4 separate regions of the Homo sapiens genome follow, and regions 1, 3 and 4 are each reported to be linked to region 2. The links are microRNA targets in miRTarBase. Many come from high-throughput screens and were not tested one by one. Region 2 holds a microRNA gene; each other region holds the end of a gene's coding sequence.

Region 1 (4,000 bases), not on the chromosome of region 2:
GAGGAGGGAGCTGCCTTCCCATTCTGCAGAGTCTGTGTGCTGAGGCCCCGCAGAAGCAAGTGGAGGAGCTGGGATGTGAACCTGGGACCCCGGCGTAGGGGGCTGCTTGGCTGTGGACCCTGCCCCTCAGGAAAGCCCAGGGTCCACCTCCAGAGGACTCGTTCTGGGGCGGGGGCGGAGGCGGGGGGCCTCCCCACCCGGGGCTCGATGAGGGGCTGTCCGTTTCTTGGCTCGAGTGCTGCCAAGTGCTCCCTGCTGCTGCGCCCACCTTCCCGGGGAGAGGCGAGCCCCTGGCTCCCTGAGTTCATGACCCACCCTGTCCACCATCAGCAGCTGGCTTGTGTCTCTGGGTGGCTGGGCACCAGCCTCCTGGAGGCCACGTGCCTGGGTCCACATGGAGGGTCCTGGTGGGGGCATCATCCTGGGTCCCGGGAGTGAGGCTGGCAGGTGCCCATCGGGGGTGTCAAGTCCAGGGGGATCGAGGCTCTGGAAGCTCAAGGGGGCTCTGGCCTTGGGGACCAGCTGAGTTTCCAGCTGGCAGCCAGGTCCTCGAGGGAAGGGGTTTGGACAGAATCCGAGGCCCCCTAAGCTGATGGGGTCCCCTGTCTCCCCTTCCAGCCCTGACCCACTGGACATGGGGACTCTTTCCAGTCCGGAGAGCTCCTTGTCTGTGTCCCCAGCAGAAGGTGGGGTGGCTCCTGCCTCACCCTCTGCCCAGCCCTGATCCAGGCCACAGCCATCTAGGGCCCTGAAGGAGGGGCAGGAGGCAGGGGTGGCTTCTGGAACCTGAGGCTTGGCCCCGGTTGGGTCTGTTCTTGGGGGCTGCACTGCTGGATCCCAGGAGCAGGTGTGGAACAGCCCCATGGCCAGGGTGATGGAAATCCTCGGCTGCATGCAGACATAGACCCACCCTGGACTGGGCTGTCTCCGGAGCCCAGACACATCGCCCTGGGAAGGGGCAGCTGGGCCTGCAGTGTGCTGGGCAGGGGCTGGCGGCCCTGGTCGTGGGCTCTCCAGGGTCCCTCAGGGGATTGGGCCTCTCCCCAGGCAGGAAGGTGGGAAGTGCAGGCATGACCCGGGGTTCCTGAGGCTGGTCCACCAAGTTGCTTCTGAGACGCCTTCGCTTCTGTCCTGGCTGGCTGTTAATGATATCCCTGTTCTAATTCCACTCTGGCTAAACTGAAAGTAAAGATCCTTAAGCTTACATGTGTCTATTCCTCAAAATCAAAATAAAAACAAAAGCACCCGAGTCTCCAACAGGGATGAGGAGGAGCGTGTGGGGCTTCTGTCTGCCCTCTCCGCTGTTGGCTGGCCTGGCTCGTGGTTCTAACTGTCTGTAATTTGTGGGTCACACACAGTTTGCTCAGGCTTTGAGCCTTTCGTGTCCGAAGCTTTTAGGAATTAGAAGTTGGCCTTCCCGAGGTTCTGCCTTCCTCTCTGTACATTTTCTAGTGGCTTCGAGTCTCACTGCTTCCCATGCAGCTTCCCCAGGTGGGAGGATCCATTTCGAAGGATCTCTTGGGGGTGTGGTGCCCATCTTTGAGCAATGTTTATTCGAAAACACCTGAGGTCGTAGCGTGGGACCCCGCAAAGCCAGGCACGTCCTTGCGTTGCCTTTGCAGTGGACAGACAGCAGCGGCTGGGGGAGATCGGCCTGTGCGGTGTCCCCCGTCAGAACCGGGGCTGGAGGGGTGTCCCAAGCACACAGGGCTGAGCCTGGGCCTGTGACTGCTCTGAGAGACCCAACCTCTGGGAGCCGCTGCTTCTGCATCCAGAATATGGGGCAGGAACCTGCCCATCCTCCTTCCTGGGGTGGGGTGGGATGGGCTGGGCCTGGGGAGAGATGCTGGAGGGTCCCCGGGGGAGCCCCCACCATGGTCCCTTCTGGGCCACTTCTGGAAACAGCCCCTTTTGTTACCTCCACCCGCAACTCTGGGCTCCCTGGATTCCAAAGCTGGAAGTGACCCTGGAGACCACTTCACCTGTTCCCTGGCACCTGGAGTTGCAGGGACACACCCTGACTGCAGGGCAAAGGGAGCCGGCCGGGCATCCCTCAAGACCCAGGGGCTTGGTCAGCCCCTGCCCGAGTGGACACATCCACTCCCAGGCCTGCAGGAGATGGGGAGGTTCCAGGCGCCCAGGACATCCGCTTTGGCCACTGAGGCCGATTCCTTAGCAAATCGGTTCTGGTTTCTCTCATTTCTATAAAAACACCAAGACTGAAGGAAGCCACGGTGTGTTTTAATAAAACAGTGTCTCCCAGTTAAGTGGTGGGACAAACAGGAACCACCGGGTGGATGGTCGGCCGTGCCCACCCGCCTCAGGCTAACCTCGAGGACGCTGGTCTGATTGTCCCTGTGTCTCTCCTGGGCAGTTCTGCCTGGTGTCTAACCGTGGGCCTCCCTGCTTTGTTCAGCCCTCCCCCCACGTAGGGTCTGGAGAGGCCCCTGGTGTTTGTCATCCACAGGGCTCCCTTCAGCTCTGCAATCCGGCGACAAAGCCACAACCACAGACGGTCTCCGGGACCCACAGGCCCCAGCTGGTGGGTGGTGCTGGCTGGCCCCGGGCTCAGCTGGGTGTGCCTGGCCTGCAGAGCTGGGCACAGATGGCTGTTCTGAAGGTCGGGGGTGTCTGGGCCCCTTGCTGTCCCCTCGGCTTCTACACCTGAAGCCGCCCCTGATGAGGGGTCCTTCCCTGGGGCCTCTCCAGACTCACGGGGCTGGGTAGGGGGGTCAGACCTGGGCTCAGAGGATGGCACCTCACATCAAAGGGACCCACCTTGACAACCAGACCCTTCCCTCCCCGTGGGGTTTCGAGGTCTGGATTCCCCACAAGCCATAATCGCAAAAGGCTGGGTTTGCCTCCTCCGAGCAGCCCCTTGAACACGGGCAGTGTGTCCCCCTCCTCAAGAGGGTGCACACGGTGATGGCCGGGCCAGGCCCTAGCAGCAGCAGGAGTTCCTGCTGGGACGAGGGAGGGGTCTTTGGGTGAGCCTGGGGAGCCTCAACTGTTAGCAGTCGAATCCTCTTTCTAATAAAATCTCACATGGACCCAACACAGGAGACAGGAGGGCTGTGCTGACTAGTGTGGCGGGGCCGCCTGCTGTGCCCCCCATGTCCGATCTCACGCCACGGGGTCCCCCTTTTCCTAGTTAGCCCTCAGGCAGCAGCCCCTTTTGGCCCCCATGATTCACCAAGCAGCAGGGCCAGGGCTCAGGCTGTCTCGGAGCCCCCGGAGTGCTTGAGCTCTCCTGGAAGCCCTGCCCGTCCTGCCCGTCCTGCCCGTCAGAGCCGCAGGAGGCCGCGCCAGCAGGTGAGGGCCACGTGCCGCAGGTGCAGGACAAGGCCGAGGAGCCGGGCCCGCAGGTCCTCCAGTGCCGTTGCCACGGGCTTGGCCCGGCCGCAGTATAGGCCCAGGGCCAGCACGAGCAGGACGCACACACACAGCTGCAGGAGCAGGGAGCCGCCGTGTGGCCTGGGCCGGCCGGGCACTGCGGCCAGAGGGCAGGCAGGGTCAGCGCCAGCCAGCGCGACCCTTCCCTGGAGGACTGGGGCTGGTGGGGAAGGGATGGGGAGATTCCACCCTGTCCATGCCCATGGCCCCTCCCTAGCCTCTTGGGGTCTCCTTGCAACAAGAGCTCCCCAACTGGGGACTCCTTAGAGGCCCTGGCCCTGTGACACCTCCCTCGGGGAGGGAGTGAGGGTGGGTGCACCCACGGAGGGGGCAGTGGGGCACAGGGATGTGGGCTCAGAACTCACCCCTGACAGTGGCTGTGGCGTTCTTGTCAGCAATGTCTGCGAAAGAGAATGGAGAGTCAGCTGGGGGCACCTGCCTCAGTCCATCGGGCGCCCCCGCCCTCTCGTCTCACCCTGCACCCCCGAAGGACCCTGAGACTATTCATCAGTGAGAGACCCAGGCCCAGCCGGTCCTGACACTTCCTCAAAGGGACAGTCATGATTTGAGAATCCGCCCTCATGTTCTCCTCCAGTTGCTGTTTCAT
Region 2 (4,149 bases):
ACACACTTCCAATCAAAATCCCAGCAGCCTTATTTTTCTTTCTTTCTTTTTTGTAAATGACAGAGTCTTGCTCTGTCACCCAGGCTGGAGTGCAGTGGCATGATCATAGTCCACTGCAGCCTTGACCTCCTGGGCTCAAGTGACCCTCCCACCTCAGCTTCATGAGTTGTTGGGATTACAGGCGTAAGCCACTGTGCCAGGCCTCGGCAGCCTTGTTTTTAAAGACACTGACAAAACTGATTCTAAAAATGTATATAAAAGTGCAAAGGATCTAGAAAATCCACAGAATTTTGAAGAAGAGTTCAGTTGGAGGGCCTATACTACATAATATCCAGACGTTCTCTAGGTCTGTCATGGAGGCTCACACCTGCAATCCCAGCACTTTGGGAGGCTCAGGCAGGAGGATCACTTGATCCCAAAAGTTCCAGACCAGCCTAGACAATATAGTGAGACCCCAACTCTACAAAAAATAAAAATTTAAAATTTCAGAAAGAAAAAAAAAGACTTACTCTAAAGCAGCAGTAATTAAGACAATGAGATAATGGTGTAAGGACAGACATATAGATCAATTGAACCACATTGAGATCCAGAAATAGATTTACACATATATATCAATTGATTTTCCCCAAAGACACCAATGATTTCAAAGTCTTTTCAACAAATGATTTTTATATGCAAAAAACAAACTTTGATATTACCTCATATAATACACAAAAATTCATCTGATATGGACCACAAACCTAAATGTAAAAACTAAATCTATAAAACTTCTTAAAAAATACATAAGATAATTTTTGTGACTTTAAGAAATATGGTCATGAAAGTCACAAACCATAAGAGAAAAATTTTGATAAATTGGATTATATCAAAATTAAAACCCTCTATTCTTTAAAATATCCCTTTAAGAACATGAAAAGAAAAAAAATCCCAGAATAAGAGAAAATATTTGCAATACATATATGAGACAAAGGACTTGCTTTCAGGATACATAAAGAACTCATACATCTCAATAAGAAAAAGACATGCAGCTCAAATTAAAAATGGATGAAAGTCCCAGCACTTTGGGAGGCCGAGATGGGCAAATCACTGGAGGCCAGGAGTTCAAGAACAGCCTGGCCAACATGGTGAAACCCTGTCTCTACTAAAAATACAAAAATTAGCTGGGCATGGTGGTGGGCTCCTGTAGTCCCAGCTACTTGGAAGGGTGAGGCAGGAAAATCACTTGAACCCAGGAGGTGGAAGTTGCAGTGAGCTGAGATCACACCACTGCACTCCAGCCTAAGCAACAGAGCAAAACTCTACCTCAAAAATAAAAAAAAAAAAAAAGATGAAAGACATGAACAGACATTTTGCAAGAAAAGTATATGAATGACCATGTAAGCACATGAAAAAGTGTTCCAGCTTCATTAATCATCAGGGAAATGCAAATGAAACCACTCTGAGATACCACTAGAATGGCTAAAATTTCAAAAACCAACAATACAAAATGTTGTGAGGATGTGGAGCAACGAGAACTCTCATGCATTAATGGTGAAACTGTGAAGTGGTACAACCCTTTTGGAAAAGTTAGGTGATTTCCTATAAATCTGAACACATACTTAACCTATGATCCAGCAATTTCACTTCTGGGTTTTTACCCAAGAGAAATGAAAATGTTTTTCTATACCAAAATTTGTACATACTATTCACAACAGCATTGTCCAGAATAGCAAAAAACTGGAAACAAGTCAAATGTTCATCAATAGGCAAATGCATGGAAAAATTATGATAAATCCATACTCACCAGTAAAAAAAAAACAAAAAAACTAGTGATATGCAAACCAACTTGGATAAATCTCAAAAGCACATTGAGTAGAGGAAGTCACTCAAAAGAGTACAGACTGTATTATTCCATTGAGATGATGTTCTAGAAAAACTAAAATGAATCTATAGTTACAGAAATCAGGTAAGTGGTTACCTGGGATGGGATGGTTAGGATGGGATTAACTACAAAAGAGAAATAGGGAAGTTTCTGGGGTGCTATAAATATTTTGATTGATTTAACAGTTACTGAGTGTATATATTTGTTAAAATTCATCAAAGTCTACATTGAAGTGTATGCATTGTATTATATGTAAATTATGCCTCAGTACAGTAGATTTTTTTAAAATGTTCTCGTAGCTCCCCATTGAACACAGGTGTCATCATGGCAAGACATTTCCTAGCTGAGAGATGCTTTTTCATTCTTTCATTCAAAAAGTAGCTTTTTCTTTCCTTCCTTCCTTCCTCTCTTTCTTTCTCTTTCTCTCTTTCTTTCTTTTCTTTCTTTCTCTTTTTTTTAGTGGCAAGGTCTTGTTTTGTCACCCAGGCTGGAGTGCAGTGGTGTGATCATAGCCAATAGAGGGTGCACAGGCACGGGAGCTCAGGTGAGGCAGGGAGCTGAGCTCACCTGACCTCCCATGCCTGTGCACCCTCTATTATATCACTCGTATGTCTACCATTGTTTGCAGATCGTGAGCTGCTTGATGACTGATGCTAGGGTGACCAACCAACCAAGTATGCCCCAAACCAAAGGGTTTCCTGGGCTTCCTGAGCTAAGGGATGTTCAGTGCTAAAACTGGGAGGCCCAGGCAAACGGGGAAAATGGGTCACCTTATCTGAGACCTTGTGCTACTCATCTCTGAAAGCATTCCCAGGCTTAGCCCCCTATCAGGTGGGTGATGTATGCTCAGTAAATGTTTCCTGAAAGGCTAGAATATGTGTGAGTAGGACACTTGAAATTCTCCTTTGGTTTCCCATGCAAACTGAGTCCTACAGTGAGAAAGCCAAGCGTAGTGGCAGATCCTGCCCCAGACACCAGGCTCGCTTGGGTCCTGCCTAGGGCGCCAGCCTCTCTCCCATGTCATTGGTGTTCTGGAAAGCAGATAAACAACTGACTTCAAGTCCTATTTAAGTTTTATGGGGTAGCCAAGGTCTTCCAGGGCTCCATCTCCAGGAAGCCCCCTCCCTGCAGCCTGGCTGGCTTTTCTTCTTCTTCTGGTGAAGTCATCCGACCCCAAGTGGCCCACAGTTTCCTTTCTCTCCACACCTCCCAAACCCGCTGCCCAGTCCTGGCACTGCCTGGGGTTACTGCTGACCTTTCAGTGCTGTTTGCTCAGAAAGTGCCTTTATGTCAACACAAACAGCCTTCAGGTTTGCCAGGGCCTGGCTCCTTTTCTCCCTGGGGTCCAGGGTAGAAAAACAATAACCAGTGGGAAGGAGAGCGAGCCATAGGGGAGTGACGCGTCCCTGGACCTTGGGTCTCTGTCCTCTCAGCCCTGTCCCTCAGGGCCTCCTTTGTCAGAACTCAGTTCTGTGGGGAGAGGGTACTGGGGAGGCAGCGGCTTTAAACAATGCCACAGTGTCTGGCAGGGAGCTGCGTGCTTGACCTGATTAGGCTCAGTGAGCCCGGGGGAGGGAGGGAGTGAAGGCAGGCTTGGGAAAGTGTTTTCCATCCCCACCCAACAGACTTTGCTTCCTTGTATCTCTGCCAAGACCTCTTTTTGGGGAGGAAAGGCCGAATCGCCTCATTTCTACAGGGGCACCTTGGCCTCGCTCCTCTAAACCTGGGTAAGCTCTTTGACCTGCCTGTCCCCCTCCCTCTTGTCTTTCCTTCCCACCAACCAGCTCCCAAACAGAAAGTGTTTTTCACACTCGCAGCTCTCCCTCCTCAGGCCCTGCCAGGCCCGAAGCTGGGCCCAGAGGCCAGCTGGCACCCACATGAAAGGCCTTCCTGTCGAGAACTGGCATGGAACCCAGGGCCTCAAGGCTGCCCACACCACAGCCCTGGCCCAGGGTCCAGAGCACAGGGCCACGGAAACTTGGCCACAAGGCTCTGGGGAGAAAAACAGCCTGAGCCGCACAGGAGAGGAGCCTCCCATCCCCGCAGCCTGGCTGGGCACATCAAGGGAGAAAGCGCAGTGCCCAGAATCCTTTGAACATGAAGCCGCAGCACCTGCACCTGGCAGAGGACCCGGGAACCAGGGATTCGTGCTGGGGGCAGCACTTGGGGTTTGTTAGTGCAGGTGGAGAGAAAACAGGAGAGTAGCAATTTCCAACCCATCAGCAGAAAAAAGTGAAAGCTGAGAAGTCAGGGTGAGGCTGGAGGGGACAGGATGGGGTGGCTGGGTG
Region 3 (4,000 bases), not on the chromosome of region 2:
AATGTGGTAAAGCCTTTCTTTATTCCACTCACTTTCGAATCCATGAAAGAACCCATACTAGAGAGAAACCCTATGAATGCAAACAGTGTGGTCGGGTCTTCATTTACTTCAGTCACCTTCGAAGGCACGAAAGAAGTCACACTGGAGTGAAACCATGTGAGTGTAAGCAGTGTGGCAAAGCTTTCACTTGTTTAAATTCCCTGAAAGTACACAAAAGAATTCATACTGGAGAAAGACCCTTTCAGTGTAGACAATGTGGTAAAGCCTTCAGTTACTCAAAGTCTTTGCACGTGCACGAAAGGACTCATAGTAGACAGAAGCCCTAAGAAAGTAAAGTGTGGTAATGCTGTCAGTTGTATTAGTTCCTTTTGGATGTATGAGAGTACTTACGCTGGAGAGAAATTCAAGGAATGTAAACGGTGTGATTAAGCCTTCAGTTGTCCTAATTCCCTTTGAAGACGTGACTCATGCGGCAATGAAATATTTAACAAATGGGGGAGGAACTTGCACTCTCCTGCGGGATTGCAGATATGTGAATGGACTCCATGGACAGAAAAGCTACGAATGTATGGAGTGTAGGAAAGCCTTCACTTCACGTAATCTTTTAAAGACACCTGAGAATATATACTGGAGAGAAACTATAAAGAAAATTCTATATCCATCCCATCTTTTGTGGGGTTTGTTTTTTGTTTTTGTTTTTGTTGAGATGTAATTTTGCTCTTGTTGCCCAGGCTGGAGTGCAGTGGTGCGATCGCGGCTCACCGCAACCTCCGCCTCCCGGATTCAAGCAATTCTCCTGCCGCAGCCTCCCAAGAAGCTGGGATTACAGGCATGCGCCACCACGCCTGGCTAATTTTGTAATTTTAGTAGAGATGGGGTTTCTCCATGTTGGTCAGGCTGGTCTCAAACTCCTGACCTCAGGTGATCTGCCTGCCTCGGCCTCCCAAAGTGCTGGGATTACAGGTGTGAGCCACAGCACCCAACCTTTTTTTCCCCGCCGCACCCCAAGATGGTGTCTCACTCTGTTGCCCCAGGCTGGAGTGCAGTGGTGTGATCCTGGCTCACTGTAACCTCTGGGTTCAAGCAATTCTTCTGCCTCAGCCTTCCAAGTAGCTGGGATTACAAGTGCCCACCACCATGCCCAGCTAATTTTTATATTTTTAGTAGAGACAGTGTTTCACCATGTTGACCAGGCTGATCTTAAACTCTTGACCTCAAATGATCCACCCACCTTGGCCTCCCAAATTGTTCGTTTTACTTTTTTTTTTTTTTTTTTTTGAGCTGGAGTCTTACTCTGTTGCCTAGGCTGGAGTGAAAGTGGCGCAACCTCTGCCTCCCAGGTCAAAGCAATCCTGCCTCAGGCCCCCTAGTAGCTGGCATTACAGGCACATGCCACCACGCCCAACTAATTTTTATATTTTTAGTAGAGACGGGGTTTCACCATGTTGGCCAGGCTGGTCTTGAACTCCTGACCTCAGGTAATCCACCTGCCTTGGCCTCCCAAAGTGCTGGGATTACAGGCGTGAGCCACCACACCCGGCCCCCAGTTCTTTTTTTTTTTTTTTGAGACGGAGTCCTTGCCCAGGCTGGAGTGCAGTGGCGCGATCTCAGCTCACTGCAAGCTCCGCCTCCTGGGTTCACGCCATTCTCCTGCCTCAGCCTCCCGAGTAGCTGGGACTACAGGCGCCCGCCACCACGCCCGGCTCATTTTTTGTATTTTTAGTGGAGACGGGGTTTCACCGTGTTAGCCAGGATAGTCTTGATCTCCTGACCTCGTGATCCGCCCTCCTCGGCCTCCCAAAGTGCTGGGATTATAGGCGTGAGCCACCGCGCCCGGCCTCCAGTTCATTTTAAAACCATGAAACCACCCACACTGGAGAGCCACCTTCTTAAATGTAAGCAATATGGGAACATCTTCAATGACATCTGCAACCATTGTCGAGATTCTTCGTAGGAAGAATTAAAGGAATGGGGAAGAAGGACTTGGGCCCCAGCAGGCCTTTTGTGGCATCCAGTCAGAAGTTAGGAAACACCCTCTAGGGCAGTGCCTGCCCTCAGCTCTCACACATGACTGGAGAGAAGTGAGAAGACTCCCAGAATCTGCCTTTTAAGTTTCCATCAGTGTCCTCGGGTCAGACTGTGGGAATGCTGTACTTCTAAGACAAAGGTTCGCATCTTACAGTTTTTCCCCAAGTGGGATCTGCCTATGCACATCCTAATTCACAGACATTGTCAGCATTGCATTATTCCAGGGCTGTTTTGAGGTCATCTCCAGCTCCATTTCCCATCTCAAACCTACACTTTGGACACTTGTTTAAACATTCACATCTGAATTTCTCTGTGGCAACCGCAGGTGGCTCTGAGGTGAGAGACTGAAGAAGCAGAGCCTGTATCATGGGACACACACCCCTTGACCACACAGCATCCACTCTCCTGCGGTTACCAGCCCTGCACCAACCACCACAGTCAGAATAATCTCAAAACTGCTAGTGGAGTCACAGACACACTCTGCCATGTCTTAGCTGTAGGACACTCAGAATTCTTACCTCCCCTAACTTGCTTTCCCTGTTTTCTGGCACATTCTACCCTGAGATATTCAGCGGCATATGCACTGATGATGCTCCGGCCTTCTCACGTCAGTGCATGTCACATGCATCCTGCTCCAGGACTGGTTTCCTAGCCTCCCGCTAAGACTAGCACTTAGCTCTTCTTGGAAAAGGACCCACCCTGCAGCGCTCCAGCTCTGTTGTGTATGGGAGGTGCTGGTGTCAGGGTTCACAAGCCATGGAACTACCTTGCTTCACATCACAAGGCAAGGTGAACTCAACTCCCAATAAACTGCTTGCTGGAGCCTCCGAATTCTCCGTTTTCTGAATTGCATAGGCACGATAGGGGTCGGGTCTGTCCTTTGTTGGAGTCAGTCCCCCCTTTTCTTAGCAAGTCAGTGTGTTTTAGAAGGGAGGTGGCAGCATTGAGGGAAACCAGGTCACCATCCACCCTCGTAACAACAGTCTCCCTGGGTGGGTCCCAGAAGTGATCTTTGTGTCGCTCGGGTCGGAACTCTTTAGGCCTCTGGCCTCCACCCTCCCCCAACAGCAGGGATGGGTCAGGTGGCAGCATCCAAAACCACGGTGAAGATACTAGGGTCCAGAGGCCGACTGGAGCAAGGTTTGCTGGCAGATGAGGCCTCAGTGGAAGTGACGGCTACTGTGGAGATGCAGTGGAGGACCTGGTGGCTGAGCCAGGAGATGCACACCTTCGCTTCTCTCACCAGGAACATTCGCTTCTCTCACCAGGAACATTTATGGTAGTATGAGGGGTTGGAACATTATTACTCAACCCATTTCAGGTCCTTTCACATTCTTGAGCTGCCATGTTGTGCTTTTGTAGAGAGATGATTATTGTACTGTGGGAGGTCAGGAAGTTCGAGATTCCTTCACTGTCAGAATGGGCTCAAGGAGCCATCTTTTGTGATAGGTATTGGGGAACTAAGGGGTATCTCTGCTACAGGAATGGGAGTGAGAACATTCACTTTTTGAAGGACAAGTATATGTGGGTCTATGATGATGTTTTTGTAAAACCCTTTTGTGTATGTGTCTGTGTGAGTCCTAATATTCAGTAAGTATTTTCCTCTGTGTAACTCCCTCTAATAGGTGTAGTCAACAAAGCTGTGCTAATATCTCTGTCCCCTTGATCCTGGCATTCTGGAAGACACGAAAGCAAGCAAGGATATATAAGGCACTGTGGTGGTTATTCCCGAGGAGCCAGAGAAACCTGGAGAAGAGATCAGAACACCTGGGGTCCTTCTATTTGGGAGAATCTTTTAGTATCTGGGCTGTTACACCTGTGGGTTTGTGAATTTGTGTCTGTCCACCTGTATGTACAGTGATAACGTGTGTGATTTTTGTATATTTGTCTAGAGGGCTGTGTGTATATATATTTATATATATTTTTAAATATGGAATGCTTTTAGGTTTTTTTTTTTTTTTTTTTTTTTGAG
Region 4 (4,000 bases), not on the chromosome of region 2:
AAGGTGCTATTGACCACTACGTGACACCTGTGAAGGCTGGCCGCCTTGTTGTAGAGATGGGTGGGCGTTGTGAATTTGAAGAAGTGCAAGGTTTCCTTGACCAGGTTGCCCACAAGTTGCCCTTCGCAGCAAAGGCTGTGAGCCGCGGGACTCTAGAGAAGATGCGAAAAGATCAAGAGGAAAGAGAACGTAACAACCAGAACCCCTGGACATTTGAGCGAATAGCCACTGCCAACATGCTGGGCATACGGAAAGTACTGAGCCCATATGACTTGACCCACAAGGGGAAATACTGGGGCAAGTTCTACATGCCCAAACGTGTGTAGTGAGTGTAGGAGATAACTGTATATAGGCTACTGAAAGAAGGATTCTGCATTTCTATTCCCCTCAGCCTACCCACTGAAGTCTTTGGGTAGCTCTTAAGCCATAACTAAGGAGCAGCATTTGAGTAGATTTCTGAAAAACAATGTTATTTGTTGATTTAAAAAGAAAACTGTATTTTTATTAAATAAAATTTAAACATCACTTCAGGATATAACTTCTCATTGGTCATTCTTAATCCCTTAAAAGATTAAGAAATAGGCCTCAATGACTAAAGAGTTCTTGGTCCTCCTGGGGTGTAAGATGAACATGAAGGCTGAAACAAATGTTTGCATTCCCCCATCTATGATGCGAGTCTCACTTAAATGTTTATACTGCCTTTTATACGTACACACTTCAGGAGCCAGTTTCTGTGATATTTTACTAGGTTAAAAACACATTTTTAGAGTAAGAAAAAAACAACAGTACATAGGTCAATTGATTCAATATTTATTGATGCCCAGCTACCCATCTTCTCACAATCTTGGAAGGGGTATGTTGGACAATAGGCAAGGAACATACCCTTTGCCTTTTAGCAAAAGGAACCGATGACAAAAGTTAGAACTGCGTGGCCTTTTCTGGGTCTGAAATTCTCCAAGAGGGAGAGTGTTTGGCTCTATGTTTGTGCCCCTGCAGAATCTAGTACAGTGCTATGTGCCATGCACCACTTAAATTCTTACTGCTAGTGAATGAGGGCCCCCTAGGACTCAGATCCTCATAGCTCCAGCTCCGTTTGCCCAGATTAATGTTTTCCAGACCCAACCAGCTGCAGTCTTCTATCCCCTATTAAAACTAAAGGAAGCACAAATTAATAGAAATATCAAACCATTGGCTTTTGAAGGTGGGTAGAAAACAGCACTGACCAAAATATTTTTAATCCCACTTTCTTAAAAAATAAGGTATCAAACAAAGAATAATTTACTTTCAAAAGTACAAACTTAGCAGTTGTGTGCTCCTCACAGTTGTATAGTGTGATTTTTTCATCAATTTTAGTTACATAATCACTAAATAATCTGCACTAGAACTCACATTCACATAGCTGGTTTTAAAGCTGAACACAACTGAACCTTGAATGGAATTGGGGACAGTATTAAGTATTAAGAACAGTTTTTTTTTTTTGTTTTTTTTTTTTTTTTAGATGGAATTTAGCTCTTGTTGCCCAGGCTGGAGTGCAGTGGCGCGATCTCGGCTCACTGCAACTTCCGCCTCTTGCATTCAAGCAATTCTCCTGCCTCAGCCTCCCAAGTAGCTGGGAATACAGGTGCAAGCCACCATGCCTGGCTAATTTTTGTATTTTTTGTAGAGAGGGGGTTTCACTATGTTGGTCAGTCTGGTGATCCACCTGCCTTGGCCTCCCAAAGTGCTGTGATTACAGGCATGAGCCACCGTGCCCGGCCTATAACAGTTTCTTATACATACGTTACTGGCCAGCAGTTTCAGCTAGCAACACAAATCAGGTGAGAGGTGAAGTGAGTGATAACCTCATTTCACCTTTCTCACTTGACACCTTTATCTGTTCTTTGTTATGGTTCACAGAGTGTTCTACTGATGTGTGAGTTCAGTCATGCTATAAACCTATTTTATTTTGTGGGCCTGTATTTCGTTATTGAACCACAGTCCTGGAGCCAGCCATCTTCTCCACAGATTAAGAGGCTGTTGCTAGAACTCCACCATCACCACCCATAGAAAAAGCACTTTAAATTTTCATGTTGTGGTAATGGGGTTTGAAAGGTTGGTAGCATTTTTGCATAAGCAGATCAGCCCATTCCCAAGCGGCTTTACACAGCCTCTGACAGTAACAAACCACGTTCTCATTGGTACCTTAAAGAGTTTAGGAGTCAAACCCAAGGATTTGTCCATGACTGAAATAAGAGCTTAATTATAAGTAATTAAGTCAGCAGATATTTGAGTACCTGTAAGCAGCAGGCGCTGTGCTAAAAAGTGGGGACACAGCAGTGAGCAAGATAGGCATGTGCTTATCCTTAGATAAACTTCACTTTTAAGACTACTACTGGAGCCTGAAAGAGGAAACAGATGTAGGGTGGTCAAAGGTGTGACCTAGAGGAGCCTGAAGAGCAGAAGTGCCCTGACTTGACCAACTCACAGCAGTTCAAGTAAGATCCTGTTGAGTTAGGTGTGCTATGATATCTGCCCCTTCACAGCCATACTGCACATGCAGGCTGTGTCACTTCCTAAAGAGGCGCCCACTCTGCTTGCTTCTCTACCCTGCAGTCCTCCTTTAAACCATCTGCCTAATCAGCTATGTATCTGTACTCCCTGTCCCTGTCCTCCGCCCAATTCTGTATACGTTTATTCTTTGCATAATTCTTAATAAGTAGTTGATTGGTGCCCTGTTTCTTAAGAAGTTTCATAATGGAAAGAGGAGAAGCTGATGAGGAGTCTGCGTGGAGAAGTGATGGTACCACAGAAGTGGAAGGAGGATTAGAAATGCCAGTCGATCAATCTGTGAGGGCTGTGGGAGATAACAGAAAAATGGAGGAAAAAAATCATAGATTATATAGCATGGTGTTCGTGGCTGGGATCACCAAATCCCTCTTACCCGGGGTAAAGGACTACATACAAGGCTGTGTTAACTTTCATTAACCTTGAAAGGGAAGAAATTTAATTTGAATTTACTGTGTGGCCGGCCCTCTTCCAAAAAGTTCAAGATGCACCTAATGCAAGAACTAATTCTTGTTCTTTTTGTCACTTCCAGATACCAAGGCTCAAACTGTTTAGCAGGAATCACTATCCTTCACCTGTACAAAGCATTCTGCCACACCAGGTTATAGGACAGATTGCCACCTTCTGTCTCCCCCCTCCTCCCACAGACTACCTACTAACAGTTCATTCTTCACTCACTTTTCTGTCTCTGAAACATCCCTTTCTTTAGTTTTCTCTAACCATTATTAGCACCTAATCCCACCCAGATTAAGGCACCTAGAGTGCCCCCAAGACACAAAGGTTTCAAGTCAGTGAAAGAAGGTCTGACCCTCCCCACAGATGGCTCACCTTTTTCAGGCAAATATGCTCCCAATGGTGGAAGCTAAGATGATCGCAAGGATAATACAGCAGATCATGATCATGATCTTCTTCTGCTCATCCAGACAAGGAAAGAAAGAATACATGAGAAACATCATCGCAAAAAGTATTCTGCAGGGAGATAAGTGCATGTGGACATGGAAGAGGGTGTGAAGGAAGAGAGCAACAGAAGGAAAAAGGAGATGGATCTGGCTTCTAGGACCCAGAATGCCAACAGAAATGTTATTTTTGGTGAGACATTCAAGTTAGATTAAAAGGATGTTTGGTATGGTCATTCCACCTTCTAGATAACATCGTGACAGATCTCCCCCATTTCCTCCTAAAGCCAGATACTCCCAAGGACTGAACCAAATTCTTTTGGGGGGAACACCTCAAATCTGAAACACAAACATAGTTACACTGCATTCTGTGGGAGTTAAACCATGTTCAAAAATTGCACTTTTGAACCATCTGATCCAGCACATGGCTTAAAAAGGTGTGAACTGCATTCTAAAACCTGAATAAAAATCACCACATGGTGGCACCAGATCATTGTGTTTCTGCATCGAGACAGAGCCAGAACCGTTTCACAATCAATACAAAGTCATTTTTATTTTTA

The links. The annotated mature microRNA hsa-miR-3622a-3p reads UCACCUGACCUCCCAUGCCUGU and lies in region 2 at 2,425-2,446, shown strand. An mRNA with a match to its seed (bases 2 to 7 or 8) in the 3' UTR can be bound and repressed. Matches are read on the target gene's strand: a 7mer-m8 pairs with bases 2 to 8, a 7mer-A1 pairs with bases 2 to 7 and ends in A, and an 8mer does both.
Region 1: the mRNA of C14orf180 is a reported target of hsa-miR-3622a-3p. Seed matches in the 3' UTR shown: 7mer-m8 at 2,662-2,668, 7mer-A1 at 1,979-1,985 and 7mer-m8 at 1,562-1,568.
Region 3: the mRNA of ZNF490 is a reported target of hsa-miR-3622a-3p. Seed matches in the 3' UTR shown: 8mer at 918-925 and 7mer-m8 at 3,107-3,113.
Region 4: miRTarBase lists MRPL16 as a target of hsa-miR-3622a-3p. The part of its 3' UTR that is shown has no 7-base or 8-base seed match.

The regions. Positions count from the first base shown.
Region 1 is chr14:104,588,068-104,592,067 of GRCh38, reverse strand. It overlaps C14orf180 (chromosome 14 open reading frame 180), which reads right to left. Exons shown (of 5, transcript NM_001008404.3): 4 at 3,759-3,794; 5 at 1,553-3,490. The coding sequence ends at 3,285. TMEM179 (transmembrane protein 179) reads left to right here. Exons shown (of 4, transcript NM_001286389.2): 4 at 1-1,204. Among named protein-coding and RNA genes, the nearest start is that of C14orf180, 10 kb to the right of the region's middle. RefSeq lists an enhancer at 3,735-4,000.
Region 2 is chr8:27,699,302-27,703,450 of GRCh38, forward strand. MIR3622A (microRNA 3622a) reads left to right here and starts at 2,376; the gene lies at 2,376-2,458. MIR3622B (microRNA 3622b) reads right to left here and starts at 2,466; the gene lies at 2,372-2,466. LOC124901920 (a long non-coding RNA gene) reads left to right here and starts at 1,669. Exons shown (of 2, transcript XR_007060869.1): 1 at 1,669-4,149. It also overlaps a transcript of SCARA3 not described here. RefSeq lists a silencer at 3,833-3,978.
Region 3 is chr19:12,576,811-12,580,810 of GRCh38, reverse strand. It overlaps ZNF490 (zinc finger protein 490), which reads left to right. Exons shown (of 5, transcript NM_020714.3): 5 at 1-4,000. The coding sequence ends at 326. Among named protein-coding and RNA genes, the nearest start is that of LINC02926, 27 kb to the right of the region's middle. RefSeq lists an enhancer at 1-887.
Region 4 is chr11:59,802,673-59,806,672 of GRCh38, reverse strand. MRPL16 (mitochondrial ribosomal protein L16) reads left to right here. Exons shown (of 4, transcript NM_017840.4): 4 at 1-533. The coding sequence ends at 326. It overlaps STX3 (syntaxin 3), which reads right to left. Exons shown (of 11, transcript NM_004177.5): 11 at 795-4,000. Among named protein-coding and RNA genes, the nearest start is that of MRPL16, 6.1 kb to the left of the region's middle. RefSeq lists an enhancer at 3,815-3,864.